Regions from separate parts of the Homo sapiens genome. Here regions 1, 2 and 4 are each linked to region 3. Evidence: fine-mapped expression QTL. A gene starts in region 3. Each other region holds a variant in brackets. All regions are shown on one strand. Distances are between the middles of the regions. Region 1 has its middle 88 kb from the start of ERCC6L2. Region 2 overlaps ERCC6L2 (ERCC excision repair 6 like 2). Region 3 holds the start of ERCC6L2-AS1 (ERCC6L2 antisense RNA 1). Region 4 overlaps ERCC6L2 (ERCC excision repair 6 like 2).

The links. PIP is the estimated chance that this variant, and not a neighbour inherited with it, causes the effect.
Region 1: its variant is the best candidate, but not a certain one, in a credible set for the expression of ERCC6L2-AS1 in aorta (GTEx, PIP 0.67).
Region 2: its variant is the best candidate, but not a certain one, in a credible set for the expression of ERCC6L2-AS1 in monocytes (Quach 2016, PIP 0.62).
Region 4: its variant is the best candidate, but not a certain one, in a credible set for the expression of ERCC6L2-AS1 in whole blood (INTERVAL, PIP 0.87).

The regions. Positions count from the first base shown.
Region 1 is chr9:95,783,480-95,791,588 of GRCh38, reverse strand. No RefSeq gene overlaps it. Among named protein-coding and RNA genes, the nearest start is that of ERCC6L2, 88 kb to the left of the region's middle. The variant A/G (reference allele first, on the strand shown) is at 3,972.
Region 2 is chr9:95,945,605-95,953,713 of GRCh38, reverse strand. The region is part of intron 12 of ERCC6L2 (ERCC excision repair 6 like 2); the gene reads right to left. Among named protein-coding and RNA genes, the nearest start is that of LINC00092, 72 kb to the left of the region's middle. The variant TC/C (reference allele first, on the strand shown) is at 4,922.
Region 3 is chr9:95,871,202-95,879,310 of GRCh38, reverse strand. ERCC6L2-AS1 (ERCC6L2 antisense RNA 1) reads left to right here and starts at 3,334. Exons shown (of 3, transcript NR_023390.1): 1 at 3,334-3,446. ERCC6L2 (ERCC excision repair 6 like 2) reads right to left here and starts at 3,620. Exons shown (of 19, transcript NM_020207.7): 1 at 3,227-3,620. The coding sequence starts at 3,272. RefSeq lists enhancers at 3,410-3,469, 3,530-3,759, 2,891-3,765, 3,900-3,999, 4,040-4,089 and 1 more.
Region 4 is chr9:95,903,207-95,911,315 of GRCh38, reverse strand. ERCC6L2 (ERCC excision repair 6 like 2) reads right to left here. Exons shown (of 19, transcript NM_020207.7): 4 at 4,045-4,238. It also overlaps the pseudogene RNA5SP289. Among named protein-coding and RNA genes, the nearest start is that of ERCC6L2-AS1, 31 kb to the right of the region's middle. The variant T/C (reference allele first, on the strand shown) is at 3,338.

The sequences.
Region 1 (8,109 bases), 88 kb after region 3:
TGAGCCCAAAGTGACAAGTTACTCTAAAGGAAAGTAGGGGGGATGGACACAGGAGAGGCAATCAACATTATCCATAGCTAACAGTCTGCAGGATTAACCTTGGTTAACATCTGAATAAACATCCCTTCTTTTCCTGGGATTGTGTGTGTGCTTCTGGGCGTGTAATAGTACTGTATTTGCTCTCGTAATTTGGAGTTTTCCCCCTCAGCAATATATTGTGTCAGGCAGAATAAAGCTGTGAAGAAATTAAACAATACAAATAGAAATAAATACATTATGGAATTCTGCCATGCCATAAACAATCTTCTACAATATCATTTTAATGAGTACAGATATTCCATTTTTAAGAATATGGCATAATTTATTTACCAAAAAGGAATTAAAAATAAATATTTCCAAGTCTGAGATGAAAATTTTTATTTTAATTCTATGCACTGAAAAGATATTATAAAGTTAAGGTCTTACTTTCTTTGAAGGTAAGTAATAAGGAAGGAATCTTGTATTGACATTTATTTTAACAACTTATGTTTTAAATTAAAACATGACCATTGAAGCTGATGCTGTTGGACCATAGACCAAACTTTAAGAATCTAGGCAGGTGCGGCCAGTCATGACTATAGTCTCAGCACTTTGGGAGGCTGAGACAGGAGAATTGCTTGAGGCTAGGAGTTCAAGACCAGCCTGGAAATCATATAGTGATACCCCATCTCTACAAAAAAATTGAAAGCCGAGAATGCTGGCATGAACCTGTAGTTTCAGCTACTTGGAAGGCTGAGGTTGAAGGATTGCTTGAGGCAAGGAGTTCAAGACCATCCTGAGAAACATGGTGAGACCCCATCTCTACAAAAAAATAAAAAGTTAGCCAGGCATGGTGGTGTGCACCTGTAGTTCCAGCCACTTGGGAGGGTGAGATGGGAGGATTGCTTGAGCCCAAGAGTTCGAGGCTACGGTGAGCTATGATCATGCTACTGCATTCCAGCCTGGGTGACAGAGCAAATTCCATCTCAAAAGTAAATAGATAAATAAATAAATAGCAAGGATCTGCAGCAGTGCTGTTCAGTAGAACTTTCTGTGCTGATGGGAATGTTCTATAATCTGGACTGTCCAGTATGGTAGCACACGTGGCTACTGAACACTTGAAATGTGGCTACTGCATCTGAGGATCTGGCTGGGTTTTTTTTTCATTTTAATTAATTCAAATTTAAATAGTTACAACATGACTGACTAGTGACTACCATATTGCATAGCACAAAATCAGAGTGTTTCACAATCAAAAATATTCTCCCTCTTGCAAATCAAAATCACAATAAGATATCCACCTCACACCTGTTAGATTACCAAAAAGGCAAAAGATAAGAAGTGCTGGTGAGGATGTGGAGAAAAGGAAACCCTTATACATAAGGAATGCAAATGGGTACAGCCATTATGGCAAAAGGTATGGAATTTTCCCACAAAATTGAAAATTAGATCACATTTTAATCCAGCAATCCTACTTCTTTTATTTATCCAAAGGAAATGAGATCAGTATTTCAAAGAGGTACCTCCACTCCCATCTTCATGGCAGCATTATTCACCATAGCCAAGATATGAAATCGACTTTTGTGTCCAACAATTTGGATGAATGTATAAAGAAAATGTGATACATACACAACAGAATATTATTCAGCCTTTAAAAAGAAGGAAATCCTGGCTGGGCCGGGTGGCTCACGCCTGTAATCCCAGCACTTTGGGAGGCCGAGGTGGGCGAATCATTTAAGGTCAGGGGTTCGAGGCCAGTCTGGCCAGCATGGTGAAACCCTATCTCTACTAAAAATTCAAAAAAAAAAAAATTTGCTGGGCATGGTGGTGGGCGCCTGTAATCCCAGCTACTGGGAGGCTGAGGCAGGAGAATCGCTTGAACCCAGGAGGCGGAGGTTGCAGTGAGCAGAGATCGTGCCACTGCACTCCAGCCTGGGCAACTGAGCGAGACTGTGACAATATGGATGAATCAGAGGACACGGAGCTAAGTGAAATAAGCCAGATATAGAAAGACAAATTCTGCATGATCTCACTTACTTGTGGAATCCAGAAAAGTGGAGCTCATGGAAACAGAATAGAATGGTGGTTGCCAGGGGCTGGAGGAGGGAGAAATGGGAGATGCTCGTCAAAGGATACAAAACAAAGTTTCAGTGATGCAAGGTCAATAACTTCTGAAGGTCTAATGTACAGCAATGTGAATATAATAACAATACGGTATTGTATACTTGAAATTTGCCAAGAGGGTAGATCTTGTGTTCTCACCACAAAAAAAAGAAAAAAATGGTAACAATGTGAGGTGATAGATATATTAATTAGCTTGATTGTGATTTCCCACAATGTATGTGTATATCAAAACATCAAGTTGTGCAAGTTAAATATAAAAAATAAAGTAAAATAAAATCAGGCCAAATAAAAGATATTATTGTTAATTTAAAAATGTAGATTCTTCCTCGTTCTGAAAGGTATAGGTTTTCAAGTACTTCCAAAAGAGTAGAGGAAAAAGGAGAGAAGGGGCCAGAGAGAAATGAAGGTCTATTTGCCTGCACTGCATATGATAATATGCAGTATATCTCTAAGCAGAGATGCCGGCTGAGCTCTGCACGGACAGTGACAGGACTCAACCTCACCACCTGTGCCAAGTGGATCAAAGATGCTTCTTCCCACGAGCAGGGAGACTGTGCCAGCAGCCAGTGAAAAAAATGTTCTTTCTCATCAAATGAGGATGCTATAAAGTGCTGACCTGAATTGGGCTTTCCCCTTTGTTCTGTAAAGGGATGGAAGCCATTGAAAATGTATTTCCAGCTGAACTGTGGCTCATTACGCATTGACCTTGCATGGGGACCTTTTGTTCAACAGCAGAGGCAAAGTGGGCATGCCAGCCAGAGCGTAACTGTCCACCTATCTCTCTATGAAAAGTCTTTTTTTTCAGTCCTTTTTGGCTCTAGCTAACTCATGGCAGCAGTTGAAGCTTGGCAGAACTCTACCCACTGAATGAAGATCTGGTGCTGGAATCTCAGACAGGGCATGCTGTATTTACTCCACGCACACTGAAAGCCAAAAACTGTCTTCAGTTGGTCCCGTGATTTTTTTTTTAACCCCTTTTGGTTCTCTATTAGAATCACTTCTCCAGGAATTATATAAACAATATTCTGTTCATGAGTATTTTGTGATCTAAAGATCTAGGCCCTTGTCAGGAGGATTCCCTGGTGTCACTAACACCACAAAGATCTGAAACCTGTCTTCACTTTACATCTTTTAAGTGTGTCATAGCCAGCTCGACTCTCCCCAGGACTTCGGCCATCCTTTGCCAAGAGCAAGGGGAGGAGCCGGGATCTAAAGGCATCGAATGTCCACGGGAGGGTTGAGGAATGTCGTAGAGTTCTGATTGAGTGTCAACACCCAAGACATTCCAGAAGTGATATATCTGCAGGACTTAACATTTTTACTTGAAGCATTCTCTACAATTGAAAGACTGGTTCTACTCTAGAAGATGCCTTACGTTAAGTGAGGCACTAATTGGGTGCCAGCTCTTACTTTTAGGTGCTAGCAATGAACTAAGCCGACAAGACTTCCTGTCCTAGTCTGGGCGTGAGCCACCGCGTGAGCTCTTTGGGAGGCTGAGGAGGGCAGATCACGAGGTCAGGAGTTCAAGACCAGCCTGGCCAACATGATAAAACCCTGTCTCTACTAAAAATACAAAAATTAGCTGGGTGTGGTGGCGGGCGCCTGTAATCCCAGCTACTCTGTCTGCTGAGGAGGGAGAATCATTTGAACCCAGGAGGCAGAGTTGATAGTGAGCCCAGATCCCGCCACTGCACTACAGCCGGGCCACAGAGCAAGACTCCATCTCAAAAAAAACAAAAAACAAAAAACACCTTCCTGTCCTAACATCATCTTTCTGAAAACAGTTTCAGAATGTTGATGTTTATTTTTGCCAAAGGAAAAGAGTTAAC[A/G]TTTCCTATGAGAACTGAATGAGAACTGAAAAACAACGCTAACATTTATTATCATTTTTGTGTGTCGGAAGCTATAGAAAGTGATGTTACATAAATTATCTCAGCTTAGCCTGTAACAATACCATGTATTAGATACTCTATCATCTTCAGTTTACAGATGAGGCATAATAATATTGGGGAGATGATAAACCAGTGGACTCATGGCTTCAGCAGTGGGGGCAAGCCTGACGGACTGAGAGCAGAGAAGACCACTCCTCCGCACCCTAAGGAAGTAAAACATGCAACGTCAGAGCTCTGTCCTGACAAGAAAAGAAAGCCAGTCACAATGAAGGTGTGGAACTTAACCATCTTTGCTTGAGGAGAGGTTTTGGTTCTCTTCTGAGGGCTGTTAACAGGAAAGTAAACCACACTGTTTTCCACTGAAAATCATTTTGTGGCAGGGTTTAGGGCACAGAGCAGCTTCAGGATAAAGAGAGTGGAGGGGGAAGAAAGACCCTATTATTGGTGACCACAGTGTTCCTGGAGGCCAGTCTGCCTCTAGACTTCTCATGATGTAAGATAATACATCTTCCCATTGCTTCATACAGTATGAGTTGAAGTTTTGTATTGTTACTTGAAACTCCAAAATCCTAACTGCCGGCAACCCTGTCTTGGGGATGGCAAGCCACGCATCCTGGCCAGGGGCCCGATGGAAGACACTACTGAGGTTCAGAAGGGCCTGGGGCATCGGGGAGAAATGACATGAGGCCAAGTCAAGGAGGAGAACAGCCACAAACCAGGAGAACAAACCACAGGTTACCTGGAGGAACACCAGGCCCGGGAGCGGAGGAGCTTAGGGGCCAGATGACACTACCCAAAGCAGATGGCAGCAACCAGAATCCCAGGGCACCTCCCAGCCTGAGGCTTCTGCCCTCGGTCACAAGGTCACCGCCACCCCTTCCCCATTTCCACAGACCCAGGTGCCCTCTTGGGAACAGCAAGCTGAGGAAGAGGAAACATGAAAGACTGGGTTGCCCTCCCCACTCCCCTCCCTGGAAGACTGTTTAAACACGAAGTAACCTAAACTCCGAAAGCTGGCAAATTAAAGGAGTTCCCAACCACCTCCCTCCTCTTCCTGAAACTCATCCTTTCCAGCCACCCAGCAAGGTGAGGTTTGCAGGGAAGATTAGATACCTTTAGAAAATAAAGAGGCGATACCTTTTTCTGCCCCGCTGAAATAGCATATGTAAATTTAAGCTCCACAATATAAGGCCTACGGAAGTCTCAAGCGATGTCACTCTAAACCCCTTACTGGTCATCGCAGTTCTATTCCACAGGGGGTGACACATATCTGGCCTACCTGCTGCCTCTTTCCCCTATTGAGACCCATGGCGGGGATCACTGATTGATCATCACACTTTCCTCCTCTGAGCCCGCATAAGGCCTCAGAAGCCTTCTCATCACATGCTGCGTGAAACCACTACCAAGTGATCAGAGCTGAGAAATACATGGAAACTATTTGCAAACAGCAATTTGACGAATGCCAGGAATCAAGATCCTTGCCTTCATTCTTATTAGAAGGTAGTACTGGTGTAGCAGAGGCTCCAAGGCTCATTCTGCAGGATACCAACGCTCCTCCAATGCAGAGGGCAAAGCCTGTGGCACTTAGCTGTGCTTAAGGCAATCTGCATTTTCATACTGACTCCTTTTAGCTCAGCAACAGGCAAGCCTTTTATTCCCCTTTCCTCCCACCTTGTCCTGAGGCATCATAAAGCACACGGGCTCTCCTTCCAGGCTTTCAACTGGTTCCAGAACCCTAAGTAACACCACTGTTTTTAAGACACCTTGCAGCAGCCAAAGTTTAGCCTTCCTGGCGTGGGCTTTCCTTAGCTCTCGGTGTGGTTGAACATCTGACAACCATTTGGTGGAATAAGTGAAGGGATTAGAACAAGAAACACAACCTTTTGTTGACTTTTCTGCTGATCCATTGGAAATTCAGTTAGGCTCCCCAAAGCATGCCGATTCTTACTTAAATATTAAAAATGCAATTTCTGCAGAAGCCGGTTCCCACCTTGGAGGTCATAAAGGGCTGTCAACACAGGATCCCTAAAGGGAGTCCTCTCTCACTCTTGTCTTTGCCCAGCCACCTTTTAAAATTATACCAGAGTTCTTGAGAAGCCCAGATGGATGGCCTCAGCCAATGAGGTCATCTGTTTACTGCCCAAAACCGCCAGGCTGGAGGCCGCATGAGGCTGCTGTGTCACAGCATGGGAAGCCACCTTGCCCAAAGATGCCTTTGCAGGAACACCTCACTCCAAGGGAGTCAGATTCTACCCTCTCTATTGAAATCTGCAGTCCTTCTACAACCCACATGGTCAGGTTCTTGAGCATATTAATCTGAAAATCTTTAGACATCTCCTGGCCCTTCCATAACTCTGAAAGCTACACACAAACCTAGACAAGCTCTGGGAGAATTTCCCAGCCAAATGGGCATGTCCCCAAGGTAGAAGCCTCCTGAGATAGTCAAGGGGGTGGCTTTGGGGTCAGATGGCCAAGTTTGAATCTTATAGCTCCGTCACTTCTAGCTGTGTGTGACCTTGGACGGGTTTCTCCATCTTTTTGAGCCTCAGTGTCTATATCTCTAAGGAGCAGCATAGTAAAACTGGCTACTTGGATTTTTAGGATAACTGAGCAAAGCCAGGGGAATGAGTCTCTGTTCATGATTCTTGCATCCCTGTTCTCTCACCCTCCGCTCATACACACAGGTCAGGACATCTTCCAAAAAGAAAACCCGGTATCATTTTGTTGTCGTTCCTTTCTGAAGGGGAACAGGGTTGCTGTGAGGAGGAAGAGGATCTGTTTGCAGGAAACCCGGAGACACAGTCTCAACCTCGTGGGACTGCTGGGCACGCCGCTAATATATGAAGCCCCGCTTAAGTCCGGAGCTCCCGAGAGTGGCGATGCTGGAGCTGTTGAAGGACCCCGCTGGAGGAGGGGGCCTCCCCGTCCCCGCTCGGCCACGTGGACCCTGGGGCGGCAGGGCTCGTCGTGGCCAGGGAAGCCTGAACCCGGGGGTGCTATCGAGTTATGCTGCTGCATAATGAGGTTTTCACACAGGCCTCCTAACCGGCGGGAGCCAGCTGAACCGGTGCCCTCCGGCCGCGGGAGAGGCGGGGGTGGCATGACCGCCTCCCAACCCCTCCACCCACGACCCCGCGTGGGCAGCGCAGCTGCGCTTCCCCCAGGCCAGTGCGGTGACAGTGCCCCCCGCTGGGTGCCCCCAGCTTCCAGGACCCTCGTGGCCCCCAATAAGGAAGGGCGGGAAAGGGTGGGGACGACTGCAAAGCGAGCTTTAAATGCGTGTGTATAATCCTAGTTGACCCCTAAGAAGATGTTCAGTCAGTGCTGCTGTCCTCTTCTTTAAACCTTGGGAGGGCAGAGACTTAGTTTAGTGGCAAGCAGGGCAGGTGGGTGGCAGCTGCTGGGACCCAAGTCCAGGGGCATGGAGCACATGGTCCTGGGCGCAGATACTGGACGCCAAGAGCTGGCTGGGAAGGAAGAGGGGATGTGGGCCCGCCCTTCATTTTCCAGACGATGAAACAAGGCACGATTGCTGTATTCGCGGGGGAGTGGGCCTGGGAGCCCACTGTCCTGCCTCTCTCCCGTCCCCTTCCCACCAGCCTTTCCCAAACTGTGCTCCACGGAACACACGCTACTGGGGAGCCAGGGTGAGAGGAGTTCTGTAAATATGGACTCTGATCAAGAGGCTGAAACTGGGAAGGAAAGGCCGCCTCCCACAGGCTGCGTGCCATCCCCAACCACCGGTGGCTCAATTCCTGGGACCTGCGCTGTGGGTAACAGGAAGCCCAGAGGCGGAGGCGTGAGCTCAGCTCTGGGCTCTGCAGTGTCAGGGCCACTCGGACAGCCTCCCGTCTCTGTTCTCAGCGCCCCCACCTCCCCGTCACAGGTGGGTGGCCACCGCTCCAACCGCTCCAGGTGTCCTGTTCCCTCACCCTATCTCACGCAAAGGCAGCAGACTCTGGGGCAGCTCTCCCTGCGTTTCTCTCTGTATTTCCCCAAACTCCCAAAGCCCCCCTCCCCTTAAGTCTCACTGACCAGAAGGGCTGAGTCACATGCTCACCCTGTACTGATGACTGGC
Region 2 (8,109 bases), 74 kb before region 3:
TACTTTGTTCCTTTTCTAGTTTTCTAAATTATTCTTTTACTTTTGGCCTTTCTTTTTTAATAAATGAATTTAAAAATTGAAATTAGCACCAGAATTTAAATATTGATCCACAGTAATTTCATTGTTTTTTTTTTTTTTTGAGACAGAGTCTCACTCTGTCTCCCAGGCTGGAGTGCAATGGCTCAATCTAGGCTCACTGCAAGCTCCGCCTCCTGGTTCACACCATTCTCCTGCCTCAGCCTCCCAAGTAGCTGGGACTACAGGTGCCCACCACCACGCCCAGCTATTTTTTTGTATTTTTAGTAGAGACAGGGTTTCACCGTGTTAGCTAGGATGGTCTTGACCTCCTGATCTCATGATCCGCCTGCCTCGGCCTCCCAAAGTGCTGGGATTACAGGCGTGAGCCACCACAACCGGCCTCATTGTTGTTTCTAAATAGCAAATTTTTCTCTCTTGATTTCCTCTTATTGTGGCAAAATATACAAAACAAAAAATTTAATCATTTTAAGCATTTTTAAGTGTACAGTTAAGTGGCATTAGGTATATCCACACTGTTATGCAACTATAACACCTATATAGCTACAGGCACTTTCCAAACTGAAACTCTGTACTCATTAAACAATAACTCCCCATTCTCCAGTCCCCCAGCTACTAGCAACTACCATTCTCTTTTCTGTCTTTGTGAATTTGATGACTCTAGGTACAACATGAAATCATACAATCTTTGTCCTTTTCTGGCAAAAACAGGTATCCATTCTTCGTAGCTGATATTACAGGAAAAACAATTCAATCATGACACCACTGAGTACGATGTTAGCTCTGGGTTTTTCATAAATGACCTTATATGTTGAAGTAGTTTCCTTTTTTTTTTTTATTGAGACGGAGTCACTCTGTTGCCCAGGCTGGAGCACAGTGTTGCAATCTCAGCAAACTGCAACCTTCGTCTCCCAGGCTTAAGTGATTCTCGTGCCTTGGCCACCCAAGCAAGCAGCTGGAACTACAGGCATGTACCACCATGCTGGCTAATTTTTATATTTTTTTTTGTAGAGATGTGGTTTCACCATGTTGGTCAGGCAGGCCTTGAACTCCTGACCTCAAGAGGCACGAGCCAACGTGCCTGGCTTGTTTCCTTTTATTTTTAATGTGTTGTTTTTGTCATCTTTAAAAAGATGTTGAATTTTGTCAAATGCTTTTTCTGCATCAATGAAATGATTATGTGTCTTTTTTCCTTCATTCGTTAATGTGGCATATTACACTGATTTTTGTGGGATGTTGAACTGTTTTTGAATTCCAGGAATAAATCCTACTCTGTGTATCATCCTTTCAATATGCTGCTGAAATTCAGTTTGCTGGCATTTTACTGAGTATTTTTGCATTAACATTCATAAAGATTATTGGTCTGTAGTTTTCTTTCTTGTAGAGTCTTTGATTTTGGTATTGGGGTAATGCTGGCTTTATAGAATTAATTGGAATGTGTTTCTTCCTCTTCAGTTTTTTGGAAGCATTTGAGAAGGATTGGTGCAAATTCTTTTTTTTTTTTTTTTTTTAAGATGGAGTCTCACTCTGTTGCCAGGCTGGAGTGCAATGGCTTGATCTCGGCTCACTGCAACCTCCAACTCCCTCGTTTAAGCTATTCTCCTGCCTCAGCCTCCCGAGTAGCTGGGATTACAGGCACACGCCACCACGCCCAGCTAATTTTTGTATTTTTAGTAGAGACGGGGTTTCAGTGTGTTGGCCAGGATGGTCTTGAACTCCTGAACTCGTGATCCGCCTGCCTTGACCTCCTAAAATGCTGGGATTACAGGTGTGAGCCACCGTGCCTGGCTGGATTGGTGCAAATTCTTTAAATGCTTGGTAGAATTAATCAGCAAAGCCTTAAGGTCCTGGGCTTTACTTTATTGGGAGGTTTTTGATTACTGATTCAATCTCCTTACACAGTTATAGTTATATTCAGGTTTCTATGTCTTCATGACATTCTTCCTAGGTTGTGTATTTCTAGCAATTCATCCATTTCACGTAGACTATTCAATTTGTTGGTATACAAATGTTCACAGTACTCTCTTGAACTCCTTTTTATTTCTGTAAAATCAGTAGCAATGTCCCCTTTCATTTTTGATGTTAATTATTTGAGTCTTCTTTCTCTTAGTCAATCTAGCTAAAGATTTATCCACCATTTTCTTGATCTTTTCAAACAACCAACTCTTGGTTTCATTGATTGCCTCTGTCGTTTTTCTATTCTTTGTTTTACTTATCTCTGTTCTAATATTTGTTATTTCCTTCCTCTGGCTAGCTCTGGGGGTTTTTCCTTTTCCTAGTTCCTTAAGGTGGAAAGTTAATTGTTGATTTAGACCTTTATTCTTTTTTAATGTAAGCATTTACAGCTATAAATTTCCCTCTTAGCATTACTTTTGCTGCATCCTGTAAGTTGTGGTGTGTGTTTTCATTTGTTTCAAGCTATTTTCTAACTTCCCTTGTGAATTCTTCTTCAACCCTTTTGTTAAGTGTGTGTTGTTTAACTTCTACATATTTGTGAATTTTTCAATTTTTCTTCCGCTGTTGATTTCTAGTTTCATTGTACTGTGACTGGAAAAAAATGAATGATTTCAATCTTTTAAAATGTATTAAAAACTTGTTTTGTGGCCTAACACATGATTTATCCTGGAGAGTGTTCATTGTGTACTTAAGAAAAGTATGTATTCTGCTGTCGTTGGAAGGAAAATTCTATATATCTGTTAGGTCCAATTTGTCTATATTGCTGTTCAAATCCTCTCCTTACTTATTGATCTTCTGTCTGAATGTTTTACCTATTATGAAAGTCAGGTGTTGAAGTCTCCCATTATTATTGCAGAGCTATTTCTCCCTTCAATTCTGTCAATGTTTGCTTCATACAATTTGGGGCTCTATTGTTTGTTGAATTTATGTATATAATTGTTAAATCTTGGTGAATCCACTTTTTACCATCAGATAATGTCTTTCTTCTAACAGTTGTCGACTTGAAGTCTATTTTGTCTAACATTAATACAACCATTCCTGTTCTCTTTTGGTTACTATTTGCATGAAATATCTTTTTCCATGCTTTTATTTTCAACCTGTGTATATTCTTGGACCTAAAGTGAGTCTCTTATGGATAGCATATATTTGGACACTGTTTTTTAAATCTGTTCTGCCAATCTACATCTTTTAATTATGGAATTTGATCCATTTACATTTGAAATAATTAAGAACAGGGAAGAACTCATTTTTCCCACTTTATTTATTTTCTATATGTCTTATAACTATTTTGCCCCTAAATTCCTCCATTACTGCCTTCCTTTGTGTTTAATTGATGTTTTTTAGTGACATATTTTTATTCCTTTCTCATTTCCTTTTACATATACTTTAGATATTTTTGTTGTGGTTACCACAGGGATTACATATAATATCCTAAAGTTATAACAACCTTAAATCAATTGATTTTACATTGATATCAATGTACTTGTCAACATAGATTTATAATTATTTTATGCATGTGTCTTTTAAATCCTGTAGAAAATAAAAAAGCAGAGTTATAAGCCAAAATTACGATACTGGTATTTATATTTGTCCATGATACTTACCTTAACTGGAGATCTTTATCTTTTTGTATGACTTTGAGTTACTGTCTAGTGTACTTTCATTTCATCTTGAAGTTCTCCCTTTAGGATTTTTTTTTTTTTTTTTGAGACGGAGTCTCACCCTGTCTCCCAGGCTGGAGTGTAGTGGCACAATCTCGGCATCTCGGCTCACTGCAAGCTCCGTCTCCCAGGTTCAAGCAATTCTCTGCCTCAGCCTCCCAAGTAGCTGGGATTATAGGCGCCTGCCACCATGCCTGGCTAATTTTTGTATTTTTAGTAGAGACGGGGTTTCACCATCTTGACCAGACTGGTCTTGAACTCCTGACCTCATGATCCACCCATCTTGGCCTCCCAAAGTGCTGGGATTACAGGCGTGAGCCACTGCACCAGGGATAGGATTCCTTACAGGGCTGGTCTAGTGGTAATGAACTCCCTCAAGCTTTTGTCTGTCTGCAAATATCTTAACCCTCATTTTTGAAGGGCAGTTTTGCCCAACATAAAATTCTCGGTAAACACTTTTTCTTTGTTTCTCAGTTGACAGTTTGTTTGTTTTTTTTTCCCCCAATACATTAAATATATTATCCCACTGCCTTCTGGATTGCAAAGTTTCTACTGACAAATCCACTTGATAATCTTAATGGAAATTCCTTGTACATGACATGTTGCTTTTCTCTTGCTGCTTTCAAGATGCTCTCTTTGTGGACAGTTTGATTATAATGTGCCACAGTGTGGATCTCACTGGGTTTATACTATCTGGACTTGGTTGATCTTCTTGTATTTGTATATCCATATTTTCCCTCAAATTTGGAGAGCTTTTCATTATTTCTTAATCTACCCTTTTGTCCTTTTCCCTTTCTTCTGGGCCTCCATAACGTACATATTGGGTCCATTTGATAGTGTCCTATATGTTCACTTCCCCTTTTTGTTTTGCTCCTCAGATTAAATAATTTTAAATAACCTATCTTCAAGTTTGCAGATTTTTTCTCCCTATTTTGGTCTGCTGTTGAACTCCTCTAGTGAATTTTTCAATTCCAAAATTGAATTTCGTGTCCAGAATTTGTTTGGTTCTCTCTCTTTTTTTCTTTTTTTAATTTCTATCTCTTTGTTGATACTCTCATCTTGCTCATATATCCTTTTCCTCACTAGTTCTTTCTCTGTGTTTTACTTTCACTCTTGGAGTATTTAAGACACTTGTTGTAAAGTCTTTGTCTAGTAGCTCCAATGCCTGTTTTGCTTCAGGGACAGTTAGTTTCTAGAGATTTATTTTGTTACTCTGAATGAGCTGTATTTTCATTTTCTTTCTTTTCTTTTCTTTTTTTTTTTTTTTT[TC/C]TAATGTCTTGTGGTCTTTTCTTGAAAACTACCATTTGGAAAGACAGCCAACTCCCCAAGTCTTTGCAAACTGGTAAGGAAGACCTTCACTAATTAGCAGGGTGTGTCTTGAGCCTTGGGAACAACATGGGGTGAAGGCTAAAAGTCTTCTCAGGTCATTTCTGGGTATACATCCTGCCTGGGTATGCTGCCATCTTGGCTAACTGCAGCCTCCACCTCCCGGGTTCAAACGATTCTCAGCCTCCTGAGTAGCTGGGACCACAGGCACACGCCACCACACCTGGCTAATTTTAGTAATTTTAGTAGAGATGGGGTTTGACCATGTTGGCCAGGCTGGTCTCAAACTCCTGACCTCAAGTGATCTACCCGCCCTGGCCTCCCAAAATGTTGGGATTACAGGCATGAGCCACTGTGCCTGACCTCATTAAAGTTTTATCATGAGATTGCAACAATTTAGTCACATCATCAGGCTTTGTTTCTAATTCTAGTTCTCTATTTCCACCACATCTGGAATTACTTCCTCTACTAAAGTCGAACTCCTCAAAGTCATCCATGAGGGTTGGAATCAACTTATTCCAAACTCCTGTTTGATATTTTGACCTCTTCTCATGAATCACAAATGTTCTTAAATGGTATCTAGAATAGTGAATCCTTTCCAGAAGGTTTTTAACAGACTTTGACCAGATCCATCAGAGAAATCACTATATATGACAGCTATAGCCTTACAAAATGTGTTTCTTAAATAATAAGAGTTCAAAGTCAAAAGTACAACTTGATCCATGGGCTACAGAATGGATGTTGTGTTACTGCATAAACAACATTAATCTCCTTGTATATCTCCATCAGAACACTTGGGTGACTAGGGGCATTGTCAGTAAGCAGTTAATATTTGGAAAGAAATCTTTTTTTTTCTGAGCAGTAGGTCTCAACAGTGGGATTAAAATATTCAGTAAACCATCCTGTAAAGAGATATGCTGTTATCCAGGCTTTGTTGTTCCATTTTACAAAGCACAGGCAGAGTAGAGTTAGCATAACTTTTAAAGGCCCTAAGATTTTCGGAATGGTAAATGAGCACTGGCTTTAACTTAAAGTCACCAGCTCCATTAGTCTCTAACAAGAGAGTCAGCCTATCTTTTGAAGCCAGGTATTAACTCTCCTCTTTATTGACTACAGTCCTCAATGACATCTTCTTCCAATATAAGGTTGTTTTGTTCTCATTGAAAGTCTGTTGTTTAATGTAGGTACCTTCAACAATGATCTTAGCTAGATCTTCTGGATAACTTGCTGCAGCTTTTCTACATCAACACTTGCTGCTTCACCTTGCACTTTTTTGTTATGGAGGTGGCTGCTTTCCTTAAACATCATGAACCAATCCCTGCAGCTTCAAACTTTTCTTCTGCTACTTCCTTGTGTCTCTCTGCCTTCAAAGAACTGAAGTGTGTTAGAGACTTGCTCTGGATTAGGCTGTGGTTTAATGGAATGCTGTGGCTGGTTTGATCTTTGATCCAGACCACTAAAACTTTCTTCGTATCAGCAATAAGGCTGTTTGGTGCTCTTGTCATTCATGTGTTCACTGGAGTAGCACTTTTAATTTCCTTCAAGAACTTTTCCTTTGCATTCACAACTTGGCCAACTGCTAGCTTTTGGCCCATCTTGGCTTTCAACATGCCCTCCTCACTAAGCTTAATCATTTTTAGCTTTCGATGTAAAGTGAGAGACATGCAACTCTTCCTTTCACTTGACCACTTAAAGGCCACTGCAGAGTTACTAATTGGCCTAATTTAAATACTGTGTCTCAGGGAAGAGGGAGGCCCAAGGGAGGGAATGAGACAGGGGAATGGCCAGTAAGCAGAGCAGTCAGAACACACACATCTACCAATTAAGTTCATCTTTTTATAGGGGCATGGTTCATGGTGTCCTGAAACAAATACAATAGTAACTTCAAAGATCAGTGATCACAGATCACCATCACAGATGTGATAATGAAAATCTGAAATAATGTGAGAACTACATTCTCACAGAGACACAAGTGAGCATATGCCACGGAAAAATGGTGCTGGAAGACTTGCTTGACTCAACATCTCTACAAACCTTCAATTTGTAAACAAGGCAATTATCTGTGAAGCACAATAAAGTGAAGTGCAATAAAATGAGATGTATCTGTATACACAATTATTAAATTATGGTAGATAACTTTTATTCAAGTAATTTATATATTTATTTAGCCTAGTGGATTTATTATTATTATTTAATTTTATTTTTTTGAGATGGAGTCTCGCTCTGTCACCCAGGCTGGAATGCAGTGGCCCAATCTCAGCTCACTGCAAGTTCCGCCTCCCAGGTTCACGCCATTCTCCTGCCTCAGCCTCCCAAGTAGCTGGGACTACAAGCGCCTGCCATCACGCTTGGCTAATTTTTGATATTTTTACTAGAGACGGGGTTTCACCGTGTTAGCCAGGATGGTCTCGATCACCTGACCTCGTGATCCGCCCACGTTGGCCTCCCAAAGTGCTGGGATTACAGGTGTGAGCCACTGCACCCGGCCAATTTATTATTTTTTAAGAGAGGAATATGGAGTTTCCCATTATAGTTGTGGATTTGTCTGTTTCTCATCATATATAAGAGTTTTGGCTTTGTTATGTAGTGACTATTACAACTTCCTAGTGGACTGTGGCCCTCTTTGTTTTGCTTAATGCCTTTTGTCTTGAATTCTATTAATAATTTGATATTAGCATTGCCATCCATTCTTAATTTTTGTTACCATCTCCCTGATTTGATTTTTTTATCTTATTTTCAACTTCCTGTGTCTTTTTTATTTACATATATGTTTCATAATAAGCATAAACCTGAGTCTAATTTTTCCTTTCTGCCAGCCCCACTTTTCTCCTTCTTTCTAAAAAAAGTTTCAACATATTCATATTTATGTTTGGATTTAGTTCTGACACTTCATTGGTCATGCTTTCTGAGTTTCCTCCATCTTCCCAACACAACTATATATTTCCTATCATGTACTAAAATAATTACATTTTCTTGGTACTCTTATTTCTTTTGGAAGTTTTACACCTGTTGCGGGAAGTCAGGGACCCTGAACGGAGGGACTGGCTGAAGCCATGGCAGAAGAACATAAATTGTGAAGATTTCATGGACATTTATTAGTTCCCCAAATTAACACTTTTATAATTTCTTA
Region 3 (8,109 bases):
AAACTAATGTCAAAAATGATGGTGACTAATAGTCTTCCTGCATCTTATTAACTGGCATCATCTCAGAGAAATGCAAATCAAAGCCACAATGAGATACCATCTCACACCAGTTAGAATGGCAATCATTAAAAAGTCAGGAAACAACAGGTGCTGGAGAGGATGTGGAGAAATAGGAACACTTTTACACTGTTGGTGGGACTGTAAACTAGTTCAACCATTGTGGAAGTCAGTGTGGCAATTCCTCAGGGATCTAGAACTAGAAATACCATTTGACCCAGCCATCCCATTACTGGGTATATACCCAAAGGACTATAAATCATGCTGCTATAAAGACACATGCACACGTATGTTTATTGCGGCACTATTCACAATAGCAGACTTGGAACCAACCCAAATGTCCAACAATGATAGACTGGATTAAGAAAATGTGGCACATATACACCATGGAATACTATGCAGCCATAAAAAATGATGAGTTCATGTCCTTTGTAGGGACATGGATGAAACTGGAAATCATCATTCTCAGTAAACTATCGCAAGAACAAAAAACCAAACACCGCAGATTCTCACTCATAGGTGGGAATTGAACAATGAGAACACATGGACACAGGAAGGGGAACATCACACTCTGGGGACTGTTGTGGGGTGGGGGGAAGGGGGGAGGGATAGCTTTAGGAGATATACCTAATGCTAAATGACAAGTTAATGGGTGCAGCACACCAGCATGGCACATGTATACATATGTAACTAACCTGCACATTGTGCACACGTACCCTAAAACTTAAAGTATAATAAAAAAAAAAGCTGGCATTTAAAAAAAAACAAAAAACTGGCATCATCATCTAACCAACTTTTCAAGGTAGAAAACCATTAGTCAGCCCTTAAACCTCATTTAATATTACTCCTTACATCCAATCCATCAGAATATCCTGGTTCTACTTCAAAAATGAATCACTTTCCTCCATGCCACTATCTCTCTAAAGCAAAGGCTGGCAAACATTTTCTCTAGAGTCAGTTATTAGCTATTTGTTACTTTAGATTTTGTAGGCCATACAGTCTCTTGCCCTTGTAATGCAAAAGCAACCAGACAATACATAAACAAATGGGCACAGTTGTGTTCCAATAAAACTTTATTTACAAAAAAAAGTGTCAGACCAGTTTTAGCCCACAGGCAGTAGTTTGCAGACCTCTGTCTTAAAGCATGCCACCATCAACTTTCCCTAAATTATGCCTAACCAGTCTCTCTGCTCCCAGTCCACCTATTTAGCGTAGGGTACCCATTATTCTCTATCTCATCATTTTATTGCCTCTGTAGCACTTATCATAACATTTAATTATCATGTCCACTGGTTTTTTGTCTTTTCCTTCCAGTAGAGAGTAATTTCCTTTCCAAGAAAAGTTTGTACTGTTATAAATTTTATCCCCAGGACCAACACAGAGTCACACAGCAGACATTCAGTGAACATGCGAATTTATTACACATTCTTTTTTTTTTCTTTTTTTTTTTAGACAAGAGTGTCTCTGTCGCCCAGTCTGGAGTGTCATGGCACAATTATAGCTCACTGTAAACTCCAACTCCTGAGCTCAGCCATCCTCCCGCCTCAGCCTCCTGAGTAGCTGGGACTACAGGTGTGCACCACCATGCCTGGCTAAATTTTTTATTTTTAGTAGAGACAGGGTCTCGCTTATGTTGTCCAGGCTGGCCTCAAACTATCCTCCCGCCTAAGCTTCCCCAAAGTACTGGGATTACAGGTGTGAGCCATGCGCCTGGCCTATTACAAATTATCAATCTCACAAATCCTTGATATCTTGCGAGAAAACTAAAAAGTACACCAACATATACATAACTGTAAAAACTGCATTGGAAGAAGAGTGCTATGAGAAGGGAGTATTGAGAAATGTAATTTAAAAGGGAAAGGGGTCTAAGAACTGTATCTCAGATAAGTGTACAGCATGTGCAAAAAAAAAAAAGCCTTAAGGGAATCACACAACTTATTGGAGTATTTTGGGTTTGAGTTCGGATAATTTCTAGGACGAAATAAATTCAGTTGAGTTAGAAATGGAATCTCTCAGTATCCAAACTACAGAACAACTGCTTAAATTGTTAAGATTTCCTGTTGGATTTAACAGGGAAATGGGTTAAGTGTCCTAAAATTTAATGAGTCGAAATCATTTGTTTTGGTTTAAACTAATTACCAACTCAACTCATTCTGGTGATAGGGTCTCTCTCTCCCTCTTTCACTCCAAAGGCCTCCTCAAGCATTCCTCAAGGGTGTTCCCACCTCGGGGCCCTGGAGCTTTCTGCTCCTTCCACCAATTTCCCTAAATACCAAGAGTGACTAGATTTATCAAAAGGAATGAGCCTCCCAGTCACAATATCCACTCGGCAGCTTCATCTATTTTTAGCTGCCAGTCTCCTATAGGTATTTATATGTTTGGTCCCTGAATTACAGCGTCATCAATTCCTAGACCTCAGAATTCAGGCTTGTAACTTGCCCTCTCTGAACTTTAGCTCTGAATTCATCTATTTAATGAGATCGATATCTTCCTCAAAGGAAAGCAAGTAAACAATCAGCATATTGCTGGGCTCAGGAAAATCACTCAATACCTGGTAGCTTTTGTTATACAGCACAATTATTAATGAAAACTACTCATTTGGGTGCCAGAAGGCATCCCAGGTGACTTGTGGTAGATAATCACACCTTCTTTAAACCTCCTATTTAAGGCAGAATATAATGCCCTGACTCAATAGGCAATAAAACTCAACTGAACTAAATATCTCAACCTTCATTTATCTACTTACAACAAACTTCTGCCATTCACTAACAACTGGGGCATACAAGAATAAAGAATGAAAATAACATTTACTGAGTGCTTAATATGGGCCACACGCGGGGTCACATAAATACTTTGCGTATTCCCCACGTCATTTAATAATCGCAAGAACCTAGTAATGAACCCAGTTTTACAGATGAGGAGCCTGCCCAAAGTTGCTCAGCAAGTAACTGTCAGAGGCAGCACTAGATCCCAGGGGCTGACTCCCGAGTCCAGGTTCTCAACACTGAATCGGAGATTTGGTTCCAGGCCTGGAGGGGTTCACAATCTGCAGCTGTCACTGAAGAGGATCTACAGGGCAAAACCCCAACCCGAAGGGCACCGGCAAGAACTGGTCCAACGCGACGCAGTACACAGGCCTCTGCGTAAGGGGCGAGCGCGGAGCTGGTACCTTTGCCTGAGGTTTCCGCGCGGGGCTGTGGCGCCGACGGATCCATCCGGCCAGGGGGAGGGGCCGAGCCCGGCTGCATGTAACACCCGGAAGGCGGCGGAGGACAGCAAGGTGGCTGGCCGGCAGGCCAATGGCGGCCAACGCCACTTCCGGCCGCCCTCCGAGCATCGCTCTTCGGCAACCCGAAGCCACAGGATGGAGGAGGGGGATCCCAGCAAAGGTAGCGACTAAGGGGACCCAAGCAGAACGGGAGGGCGACGTCCGGAGCGGCGGCAGAGCCAGGGGACGCTGTGTGAGGCTGGCAAAGCGGTGTTCACCTAGTTCTCTCGGGCTCCGCCGCCGCCGGAGGAGGACAGGAGGCCGGCAAGGCGACCCCCAAATCTTCCTAGGCTCTGACTTCCGTCTCCTAACCCCCGCAAATTCCAACCCGGTCTTGGAAAATCCCGCGAGAACGGGCTCCCGAATTGTCATTGGGATCTCGCGAGAACGAAATCTTCCTTTCTGTGGGCGGAGCAATCTTCCCGATGTCTCTTCCCTCTGAGGCCAGTAGCAGGAAGGGCCTCGGGAGTTGCGAGTGTCGCGAGGTTTGAGGTCGCTCGGTGGGCCGGGCGCTGTGCGAAGCTAGAAATAACTGGGGGCATGGAGAATGCGGTGGCTGTAAAGGGCCGCTGAGGCGGTGGAGGCCTGGCAGAGAGCGTCCCCGCGGTCGCGGCTTCTGGCTTCTCTGTGGAGCTTGGTTCTTCCGTGGTGGTGCAGCACCCCAGGAACTTCAGGAACCAGTCCTTCCTTGGAGAGCTCCCCGGGACAGCCACGGGGGCCAAGTGAAACTAGCGCGTTTTCTTGGATCCTACACTTTATAGTGAGTCATAAATACTTTAAATACAAAGCCAACAACATTTGCTGCAAATAAACGTAAAAATACTGTTAAAGTGTAAAGTGTTTTCCTCCGTACCATCTGACGTTTCTGGCGGTTCGTTGAACGCGAGAGAACGCTGAGCCGTCTGCACTGAGCCCGGGAGCATCTTCAGGGCAGCGCCGCCCACGCGCGAGGTGAATGAAGGACACGGCCTCTTGACACTCCCAGGCAGCACAGATAGACGGATCCGTAAGTGGCTCCCGCGCATGTTAAAATTTGTATACTGTAAGGTATTTCATGGATTGAGTGAAATACCTGACAGGGCCTGTATCCGTTCCCTATTGCCACAATAACCAAAAACCACAAACTTTGTAGCTTGAAACAGCACAAATTTATCATCTGACAGACAATGCATTTATTATCTCACGGTTCTGTAGATCAGAAGTGCTACCTGGGTGTCACCCGGGCTGCACTCCTTTCTGGTGACTCCACAGGACAATCCTTAGCTTGCCTTTGCCAGCTTCTGTCCACATTCCTTGGCTTTGGTCCCTTCCTCCATCTTCAAAGCCAGTGATATGCCATCTCTCTGAACCTTCCATCCTCAAGTCTACCGCTGATTGCAGCTGGAAAAGATTCTGAGGGCTCACCTGAGTAATCCAGGATCATCTTCCCATTTCCAGGTCTCTGCCCTTGATCACATCAGCAGAATCCTTTTGCCATGTAAGCTAATATATTCACGAATTCCGGAAATTAGGAGATAAACATCTTTGGGGGATCATTATTCTGCCTACAGTAGTGTCTTAAGAAAACAATATGGCTGTTTGCAAATAGATCTCAATTCTATGGCAGATACTAAAAACTAGTAGTATGTGTTCATAAAATGCTTCATTTAAAATATGACTTGTTTGCTTACCAGCAGGCAATAACTTTAAGCCTAAGTGAAACATCTAACTCAGCCATCTATGTGTGAGTTGTTGGCCAGATCACTTCTCCGTGTTTTATTGTACTCACCTATCACCATTACAGTGAAGCTAATAATAGTAAACTACCTAAAAATGGTAATTGTAAAAAATTAGATAATTAAGTAAAACTCCTAAAACAGTAGCTGGTCATAGTAAGGAATATATGTGTTGTTATTACTATTATTATCAATGGAATGCATCCACTTGAAAGTTGCATTCTACATAGCCATTATGTCAGTTTAATATTTTGGCTAATAGGCCGGGCGCGGTTGGCTCATGCCTGTAATCCCAGCACTCTGGGAGGCCAAGGTGAGCGGATCATGAGGTCAAGAGATCAAGACCATCCTGGCCAATATGGTGAAACCCCGTCTCTAATAAAAATACAAAAATTAGCTGGGCGTAGTGGCACATGCCTGTAGTCCCAGCTACTCAGGAGGCTGAGGCAGGAGAATCGCTTGAACCCGGGAGGTCTATAGAGGTTGCAGTGAGCCGAGTTTGCGCCACCGCACTCTAATCTGGCGACACAGCGAAAAACACTACTAATTATAATTGTAATTCTTGATTCTGACATGCACCCTGATATTGGAAATCTTAAAATCTAGAAAAATCTGCTGCTTGTTATTGATGGATTATATCTCTTTTCACATTGTCTCTAAAATCAAAATGGCAAATTGAAATTTTAATCAAGCTTCTTTTTTTCCCCTACAACTACCAGGGAAGAAGTTTGATTTTTTTCCCCTCTCTGAAATGACTAGTTGTGTAATTTTGTCTTATTTTTCCAGAGGTCCATTGAGTTAAGATGTAGCTCTTGACAGAGCAGACCTCTTAATAGAAGTGATAAGCAAATTCAGAAATAAATTTTGATTTAAATGGGAGGTATCATCTGGTTGAAGGAATACCCTTGTGACTAACAAAAGAGGAGGATACCTCATTTTCTTTTTTTTTTTTTTTTTTTTGAGACGGAGTCTCGCTCTGTCGCCCAGGCTGGAGTGCAGTGGCGGGATCTCGGCTCACTGCAAGCTCCGCCTCCCGGGTTCACGCCATTCTCCTGCCTCAGCCTCCCAAGTAGCTGGGACTACAGGCGCCCGCCACTACGCCCGGCTAATTTTTTGTATTTTTAGTAGAGACGGGGTTTCACCGTTTTAGCCGGGATGGTCTCGATCTCCTGACCTCGTGATCCGCCCGCCTCGGCCTCCCAAAGTGCTGGGATTACAGGCGTGAGCCACCGCGCCCGGCCCTCATTTTCTGAGTGTTTATTATTTAACCTCACTGCTGTACTTACAGTGTATACTGAAGCAGAAATAATCATGACATGAAAATATGTCCTAGTGAACTAGTTGCCTCATAAAGTTAGACATTCTCAAATATTCCTTCCCCCAGTAGCTTTTGTCTTTGCATTGACATCCTTGTCTAGGTGCTGATATTGTGAACATCTAACGCTGTCAGACCAGTCACTTCAAAGTTAAACTGAATATCTTGTAAAATATTAAGGAATTCCTGTAGTTAATATGTGTGATGTTGGATAAATCACATGAATGAACTGAATCACATACAAAACTTTTGGCAAAGGAGGATCTAGCAAAAATTAAGCCAATTAAAACTACAAAAGAGAAAAAAATAACACAGATGGTGATAACACAGGCATTTCAAAACAGGCTCATGGAAGGATGATTAAACCCACCAATAATTTGCCAAAAAATAGTCTCTCTTTATCTTCACACTGCAAAAGTCAAATATATATCTGTATGTGGTTGACAGATCTCCAGAATTGTGAGTTAATCTAGCAAAAAGGCTCCAGAAAAAAATAGATATGAAACTCTAAGACAACACAAGAAATTAAGTCTTTTGAGTTTTAGTTAGATGATTTTAGGTTGCAGCATTTCTCCCTTCATACGTCGTTCCAGCCAATAAGGAAGCAAAGATGAGTGAAGGCAAGAGAAAGAAGATAAAATAGACCTGTCCTTCCTTGCCACAAATAACCTAAATCTTAAAGTTTAAAACTCAACGTTGCACAACAGTGTGAACATACTTAACACTATTAAACCGTACACTTAAAAATGGTTAAGAAGGTACATTTTATATAATATGTTCTTTCTTATCACAGTTTAAAAAGCAAAACACAACAAAAAAGCTCCGGCCAAAGAAAGGAAAATTTGAGGCTTGAATGAGGTATAGTGAAAGATATATAGAGTCAGTGTTAGAAGTATATCATGGTCCCATATAATGAATATCATTACACCTTGAATATTCACCAACACCATTTTTACTTCATAGACTCAATAAATAGACTCAAATAATAGAACATTTAATACCTCATGTCAGATAAGTATAAAAATCCTGCAACAAAACACCAAGAAATACTGGTTGAAACATGTTTATAAAAACTCTCAAAATATAAAAGCGAATGCTTATACACTGTTGATGGGAATGTAAATTAGTACAACCTCTATGGAAAACAGTATGGAGATTTCTCAAAGAACTAAAAGTAGAATTACCATTTGATGCACGAATCCCACTACTGAGTACCCAAAGGAAAATAAATCATTATATTGAAAAGACACCCACACTTGTATGTTACCACAGTAAAGTTCACAATAACAACGTCATGGAATCGATCTAAGTGTCTATCAAGAGATGACTGGATAAAGAAAATGTGGTATATAAACACCATGGAATATATTGCAGCCATAAAAAAAAAAAGAATAAAATCAGGTCTTTTGCAGCAACATGGATGGAGCTGGAGGCCATTATCCTAAGTGAAATGACTCAGAAACAGAAAATCAAATACCACGTGTTTTCACTTAAAAGTGGGCGCTAACTAATAGATACATATGGACATGCAGAAGGAAATAATAGACACAGAGGACTCCAAAAGTGGGTAGGATGGGAGAGAGGTGAGGGTTGAAAAATTATCTGTTGGGAACAACTTTCACTCTGAGTGACAGGTACACTAGAAGTGCAAACCTCACCATTATGCAATATACCCATGTAACAAACCTGTACTGTACCCTCTGAATCTATAAAATTTTAAAAATAAAAAAATCTCAATGCATAGCTGAGCTTTC
Region 4 (8,109 bases), 32 kb before region 3:
ACAGACAGGTAAGAAATAATTAAAATATGACTGATGCTATGATAGAAGAATTTATTACATTTATCTAATTGCAAAACATCTTTTGGGGTGGTACAGTATATTGGTTAAAAACCTAAGGTTTGGCCAGGCATGGTGACTCCCACCTATAATCCCAGCACTTTGGGAGGCCGAGGTGGGAGGATCACTTGAGTCCAAAAGTTTGAGATCAACCTGGGCAACACAGGGAGACTTTGTCTCTACAAAAAACAAAAACATTTTCCAGGCATGGTGGCGCATGCCTGTAGTCCTAGTTACTTGGAAGGCTGAGGTGGGAGACTGAGGGTACAGTGAGCTGTGATAGCACCACTGCACTCCAGCCTGGGCAACAGAGCAAGGCTCTATCTCAAAAAGAAAACAAAACAAAACCTGAGGTCTGGCGTTAGATGGTCAAGGTTCAGTCCTCATGTCTGCCACTGACTTAGTTGTGAAGGCCTAGAAAAATTATTTAACCTCTCTATGCCTCAGATTAGTCTTCTGTCAGGATCCATGAAATAGTAACAGGCTAATTTATTAGCTTGTAAGTTTGATTTATAAAATTAAATCCCAGACCTGACAAAAGTGGTAGCTCCATATCCAATTTTACCAATAATTATATTCAAAGTGAATGGTCTAAATACCCAAATAAGAGGCAAAGATTATCCGAATGGATGAAAAAGCAATATTTGGAGACTCACTCCAAATATTAAGAACAGATATACTGCAATAAAAACAGGAAAAGCTATTTACATGCAGTAAGCATAAGACTCAGCATAAGACAGCAGCATTAGTCATACAGTCAAAAACTGGAAACAATTCAAATGTCCATCAACTGGTGAATGGACAAAATATGGGATAGCTATATAATAGTACCATCGGCAATAAAAAGGAACAAACTACTGAAATGTACCACAATATGGCTATGCTCATATCAGATAAAACATCAAGATAAGAGATATTATTAGAAATAAATAGGTATATTTTTTAAAGATAAAAGGATCAATTCATCAGGAAAAAATAACAATCATAAATGCATGTGCACCTCATAAAAGAGCTTCAAAATACTAAATTAAATGCTGACAGAGGTGAAAGGAGAAATAAACATATCTACAATTACAACTGAAGATTTCAACTCTCCTCTCTCAGATACTGTAAGCCAATCGAAAAGGAAATCAGCAAAGATAGAAAACACCTAAGCAACATCTTGGCCAATCTAGTCTTATTGATATTTATAAACACTACATCCAATAACTATAGAACATTGTTTTCCAAGTGCACATGGATCAGAAAAATGCAAATTACACTACAAGATACTACTACACATCTACTAAAACAGCTAAAACAAAAAGACTGACAATACCAAACGTTGCTGAGAATACGAAGCAACTGAACTCTCACACATTGCTAGCTGGAGTAAAACCACTGTGGAAAATGGTTTGGGAGTTTCTTCTAAAGCTAAACCTACAGTTAACCATATAATACAGTAATTCTACTCCAAGAGAAATGAAAACATATGTCCAAAAAAGGCTTACATACAAATATGCCTTGAAGTTTTATCTATAATAATCCAAAACTGGAAAAACCCAAAAATCCATCCTCAAATGAATGGGTAACAAAATGTGAATATTGATGAAATGGAATACAATGCAACATTAAGAAAGAACAATCACTGATACACTCCTCAACATGAATGAATCTCAAAAAACATGCTGAACAAAAGATGCGACACACACAAAAGGGTGCTTCCTGTATAATACCATTGACATGCTCCGTAATAGCTTAAACTCACCTATAAGTGGCAGAAATTAAAATCAGTAGTTGCCCAAGGTGAGGGTTGAGGAAAAGCCACTGTAAAGAGGTAAAAGAAAAGTCCTGGGATGATAAAAATAGTTTTTACCTTGTTTGGGATAGTGATTGCACTCATTTGTCAAAACTAGGAGTCAGTATACTACTGCCCATGGCCAAATCCAGCCCGTGGCCACTTTTGTATGGTCAGTAAGCTAAGAATAGTTTTTACATTTTAAAGGGTCATAAAAATAAAAAAGAAGAATATGCAACCGAGACTATATGTGGCCCAAAAGCCTAAAATATTTACTATCTGGCCCTTTACAGAAAAAGTTTACCAATCCCTGGTCAAGATTCATCAAATTGTATTCCTGAAATGGCATAATTATTCTACACAAATTAACTCTCATTAAAGTTGATTTTAATACAACTCTCCAGCTGGGCTTGAGGGGCTAGTTTTCACAAAGACTGATTTAATTCATCCTCTGTCATTTTCCAGATGGGCTAATTTACCCAAAGCCACATGGCTAATTAGTGATTTTTTTACTCTCTTTTTTGTGTGCTCATAAAATTTGAGACAACTATCAATTGTTCATCATTTTCATCCTATGCTAAATCATTTTAATGCTGATGTGAAAGTATCACCTTAAAAAAATTACCAATTTTCTAAACTTCGGTTGACTTTGGGGGAATATCATTAACTCCTTCATTAGCAGTAGTTCAAATTGAGTATAACTATAATGTCTAAACATTTTAAAGACTTACTAGATAACTGTTTCTAATGCCATGCTTTAATCTTCACCTAAAAGGTATAAATTGTATCCCTGTAGAGACAAATCTAGGCTACAAGCAGATGGAAACTAATGATTTTACCAAGGCCCAGCCTACTGCTGGAACAACTATGAAGACTTCAGACCTCACTACCATGGTCCCGTGACCACATTACTATAAAAGCCTTGTATTGGTTTGCTAGGGCTACCAAAATAAAATACCACACACTGGATGGCTTAAAACAACCAAAATTTATTTCCTCACAATCCTGGAAGCTCGAATTTCAAGAGCAAGGTGTCAGCAAATTTGGTTTCTCCTGAAGCCTCTCCCCTTGGCTTGCAGATGACTGCCTTCTTGCTGTGTCCTCACAAGTCCCTTCCTCTGTGGTGTGTGTGTGTCCTTGGTGTCTCTTTCTCTTCCTATAAGGATACCAGTCATACTGGACCCAGGCCCCACCCAATCAGCCTCGGTTTTAATCACCTCTTTAAAACTTAATCAAAGAGACCTGTCTCTAAACACAGTTACATTCTGAGGTGCTGGGGTTGAGACCTGAACATTTAAATTGTGGAATGGGGGTTGAGGAGAAGCGACACAATTCAGCACATAACAAGCCTCTTAATTGGTCCTTCTCCATTCAGCTTGGCTCTCCTTTATCTGCACACACAGAAGCTAAGGTATTTACAAAGTGCAAATCTGATCATTTTTATCCTATCGGTAATCTGCTGACAACACTGTAGGGGGCACTCTATTGCTCTCAGGATAAAGA[T/C]CAAAATCCTCAAAGTACCTTCCAATACTCTCTATAATCTTTTCCCTGCTTATCTCACTGGTGTTACCTCTTGGCCACTTCTCCCTCACACTCTATGCTACAGTGGGTGTGTGGGTGTGGGGGTGTGTGTGTGTGTGTGTGTGTGTGTGTGTAGTTTTTGCCCCTCTATATTCACAACAGACTCCCATAATTGAAATAATTCATGAAAATTACTGACCTAGTTCAGAGGCAGTGTCTGCATAAAAGGCTGTACATGAGATTTAGGACAAGTCTTATCATTCTTTAACAATCAGTGTTTGAAGAAGTATCCTGTATTCAATGTAAGAAATAGAATAAGAAGTTCTAGAAAACCTGATGCAGGTTTTTCCTTCTCAGAGAGTAAGTTATTATGAACTAAATATTTCAATAATTCTAAAATGAAATTAAATCAAGCAAAGGAATCATCATTATTCCTTTTTAAAAAATCACAATATAGGCTTGGCACGGTGGCTCACACCTATAATCCTAGCACTTTGGAAGGCTGAGGTGGGTGGATTGCCTGAGCTCAGGAGTTCGAGACCAGCCTGGGCAACGTGGCGAAACTCCGTCTTTACTAAAAACACAAAAGCAAGACTCTGTCTCAAAAAAAAAAAAAAAAAAACTCTTAATATAAAGGGATGTAAGTAGACTATTAATACAATCATTCCTATTCCTATTATTCCCATTACCTGTTAAGTTCATCCAGGCATAAGCGTAGTGTTTCATAAGTTGTTAGAGCAATTTCACATTTCCTCTGCTTTACACGAATTAATTCATTATCTTTTCTGTTTCCATGTAAAACAGTGACTCTGAAATATCCCCAGGTGTCCAATTCATCCTTCCAGTTGTAGAGGACAGAAAGAGGAGCAACTATTAAGAACATCTAAAACAAGAATAAAAAAATTTTGCTGTTTTTTAAAAACTGAAAAAGAATCCCAAAGTGAAATCCACAATATCAATATCAATAGTCCTCTTCCTTAATTTTGACATCTAGTTAGTAACAATAAATACAACTGAGTGATTAGCTATATCTGGACATTGAAGATTCTCAAAAAATAATTTGCTGTTTAATTAGCTTTTTATCAGGACAAGACAGACACCTAACCTTGCTCAAAGAAACACGTGTTTTTTATTTCCCCCTACCAAAAAGGCACTGAGAAATGAGAGAGAAGTAACTTTCCAAAAGAGAGAAAAGAATAAAATCTGGATCCCAGTAATAGCTTCAAAGGCCAAGTGGGTAATGTACATACACAAGCAGGCCACGTGTTCTTGAAATATATGGTCTCCTGGAGCTCTCTTTCCTTCTGCATTTTCCTAGCCCATTTCCGCTCCCCCTCTTTCAGATACTCTCAGTTAAAGAACTGGAAAATTCACTGGAAAATTGAAGCAATCAGAAGAAAACTTCCTGGATGAACTTCTCTCAGTATCCTATCAATAACCTATCTATATTCATTTCCATATATTTTGCCCTCCCACCTGTTGCCATGGGTACGCTGCTCATGTTCTTCTCCAAAAAAACCCCTCATACAGTGGCTCCCATTCCTTCTTGCCAACCTAAAGTCAATGCTGCAGAAACTGCCCCCAATCTCCCCTACCTGATTAACTTTTCCATTTTAATGAACCACATCACCTATGGACAAGCATGTTAGAATATTTCCCAGGGTTAAAAAAATCCGAAAAACAAAAATTTTTTAAAACTTCTTTTCCTTAACCCAACATCTATCTCTATTACCTCATTACTCTACTCTCCCTATAGCAAAGATCAAGAGTTATCAGTGCTTAACTCTCCTCCTGCTCTCTCTTGAAACTCAGGTAAATGGGACTTGTGCCCTAATAATGCCTACCAAATCAGTCCCTCTGAGGATTACCAACGTAACTCTCTGGTTATTCCTCACATTCATGTACCTTTCCTGTACTAACCCAGAATCCTGCTGTCATCAACCATTTTAACTTTTTAATGTTTTTATTTCTCCCTGTTACCACTATTCCTATCCTGTTAAGTTTAATAGGGTTACCAGTACGATTATTTTCTAAAGTTTTATACTTGATCTACTTGATAGAGATGAACCAATTAAACATACTGAAAAAATTCAGTTTAACCAAGAAATAATACAATACTGCTCTAAATTCTGCTCTGTTTTCTGTGAAACATTTAACCTAGGCCATTTGTCAACTCTAAAAAGTCAAATTTGTGACTGTGTTTTGGAAAGAGAAAGAAGAAAACGAAAGAAAATCAACATGCTGAACGTGAGAGTTCCTTTTTCCCAAGCCATCATCAAGCATATGTAAGTACTTCTTATACTTGATTCATCTCAAGTATGTCCGTCCTTTGGGTGAAGGTTAATCCTATGATTTCCATTTTTAACTTTCAAATATGAAATTAGGCCTCCAATTACTAAGTCCAATTACAGTGTCTCCCTTTGATTTTTTTGTATATTACGAGATGACAATGCTAGGTGCAAATTGCATCTGAGCAGTCTTAGTAGTTTTCCACTTGAGAGGCCATTCATCAAAGGTGCCAATGAATCTAAAGAGTCCTGGCATCAGCCCTAAGATTCCAGAAGATGTTTAAAAATTAAGGTGGCAACATAATTCTTGATATTTCTTACAAACATTGGTCTTCAAAATTATGAAAGGTGAAATAATGGTTCAAAAATTCATTTTGGTAGTGAAAGATGTCAGAGAACTGAGTTATGCTATTATGCAGAGTCCAGGGAAAGTACATAAGAACTTAGCATTTCCTACAATCCAATAAATAATATTTCATTTAATAAGTCTTTTTTAAGCAAATGATGCCAAAATAATAAAATGGAAAGCAGTGTCCAACTGCTAAGTCACTACACACAAAGCAACTCTGGGAGCTATTCCTCTAATCCAAGTACTAACCAGGTCCGACCCTGCTTAGCTTCCAAGATCAGACGAGATGTGGTGTGTTCAGAGTGGTATTGCTGTAGACATGGGGGAAGGGTGATAATTCTTATTCTGAAGCTAAAATACAATTTTATAAAACTGAATATAAAATTAACACAAATAAAATTAAAATTCATTTGCTTACGTATTATTAAAATTAACAGAAGCTAGGTTAAATAATGCAACTAGAGAATACTGAATTATTTATATCTTTCAATAAATCTTGCTCAATTATTAAGGAGTTTTCTATCAAATCTGATTCCTCAGGAACCACGGCATAGAAGAATGATGTAGTGTGGACTGTGATGAGATACTCAAAGATTAACGTGACAATTTTTGTGGCAGAAGTAGTAATAGTATTAATAATAACATAACAATTATTGAGCACTTACTGTGTGCCAAGGCCTTTAGAAGTAGTTTACAGAAATTAATTCAGGGACTTTACCCAGAAACACAGATGAGGAAACTGAGGTACAGAGATATTAAGCAACACACTCAAGGTCATACTGCTATTAAGTAGCAAAGTAAGTATTTGAACCCAGGTCTGCCTAATTCTAAAACTCTTAACTACCATGACATATCCTGTTAGCACCTTCAATCAAAAAGTCTACGTCCTTGAGATGTGTAACTTTATTTACCTTAACTTCAGTACTTCATATAGTACCTAGAAAATAGAAGGTATTCAATTGATGAATGAATACATGAAACCATACATGTCAATGCTAAGTTCGGAATAATAATATATGTTCAGAGGACAGTGAGATTACAGTAGAGTTGAAACAAAGGTTCCACGTGGAAAGAAGTGTGATATCAAAATGAAAAATAAATTATACCTTTACAGAAAAATTACGGAACATAAAATTGGAATCTTTGCTAGAAAACTCAAAGGTCTAAAAAAAGCCTTGTATTTATCGCCACAACCTTAACTCTCTCAAAAATACCTAACATAATTAATTTACACCCTACTGTGTGTATAGCTGATCATTTTCTCCTTCAGTATGCTGCAGTTATTTCATATACAGAAATTTCAGTTTAGAATCCACTGTAGTCAGGGGCTCTTCCAAGTCCTTTGTATAAAAACAGCCTAATTTTTGACAGAATATCAAGTTTTGGCATTAAATAAATTAATTACCTATGTTGGGTATTTTTGAGAGAGTTAAGATTGTAGAGATAAATACGAAAACTTTTTTTTTAGTACTTTGAGTTTTCTAGCAAAGATTCCAATTTTACATTCTGTAATTTTTCTGTAAAGGTATAATTTATTTTTCATTTTGATATCACACTTCTTCCCATGTGAAACCTTTGTTTCAACTCTACTGTCACTGTCCTCTGAACATACATTATTAGTCCTAACTTAGCACTGACATGTATGGCTTCAATTATTAATTCATTCATCAATTGAACACCTTCTATTTTCTAAGTACTATATGAAGTATTAAAGTTTGGCATTATGCCAAAACTTGATATTCTATCAAAACAGAAAGTTACAAACCAGATCAATAAATATCAACTCTTGCAATTAAAAAAGAGAAGTAAATAAGAAATATAAGAATGGAAATGACAAGCAAAGTTAACTATAAATTCAACACAACATCAACTAATATATCAATAGGTTTTGAGGAGAAATTTGAGAAAATTTATTTTTCATAAGTTGAGAAAACTTGAGGAGTAACTACCAAATAATAAATTACATTATAAAGCTAAAATAACTAAAACTGTTTAGCACTGGAAGAGAAATGAACAAATAATTAGGACAGAATAATACGTCTAGAAATAGAAATGAGTTTAATTTTACACCAAAGTGGCCCTTCAAATCACTGTGGAAAAGCAGGCTTACTCAACAA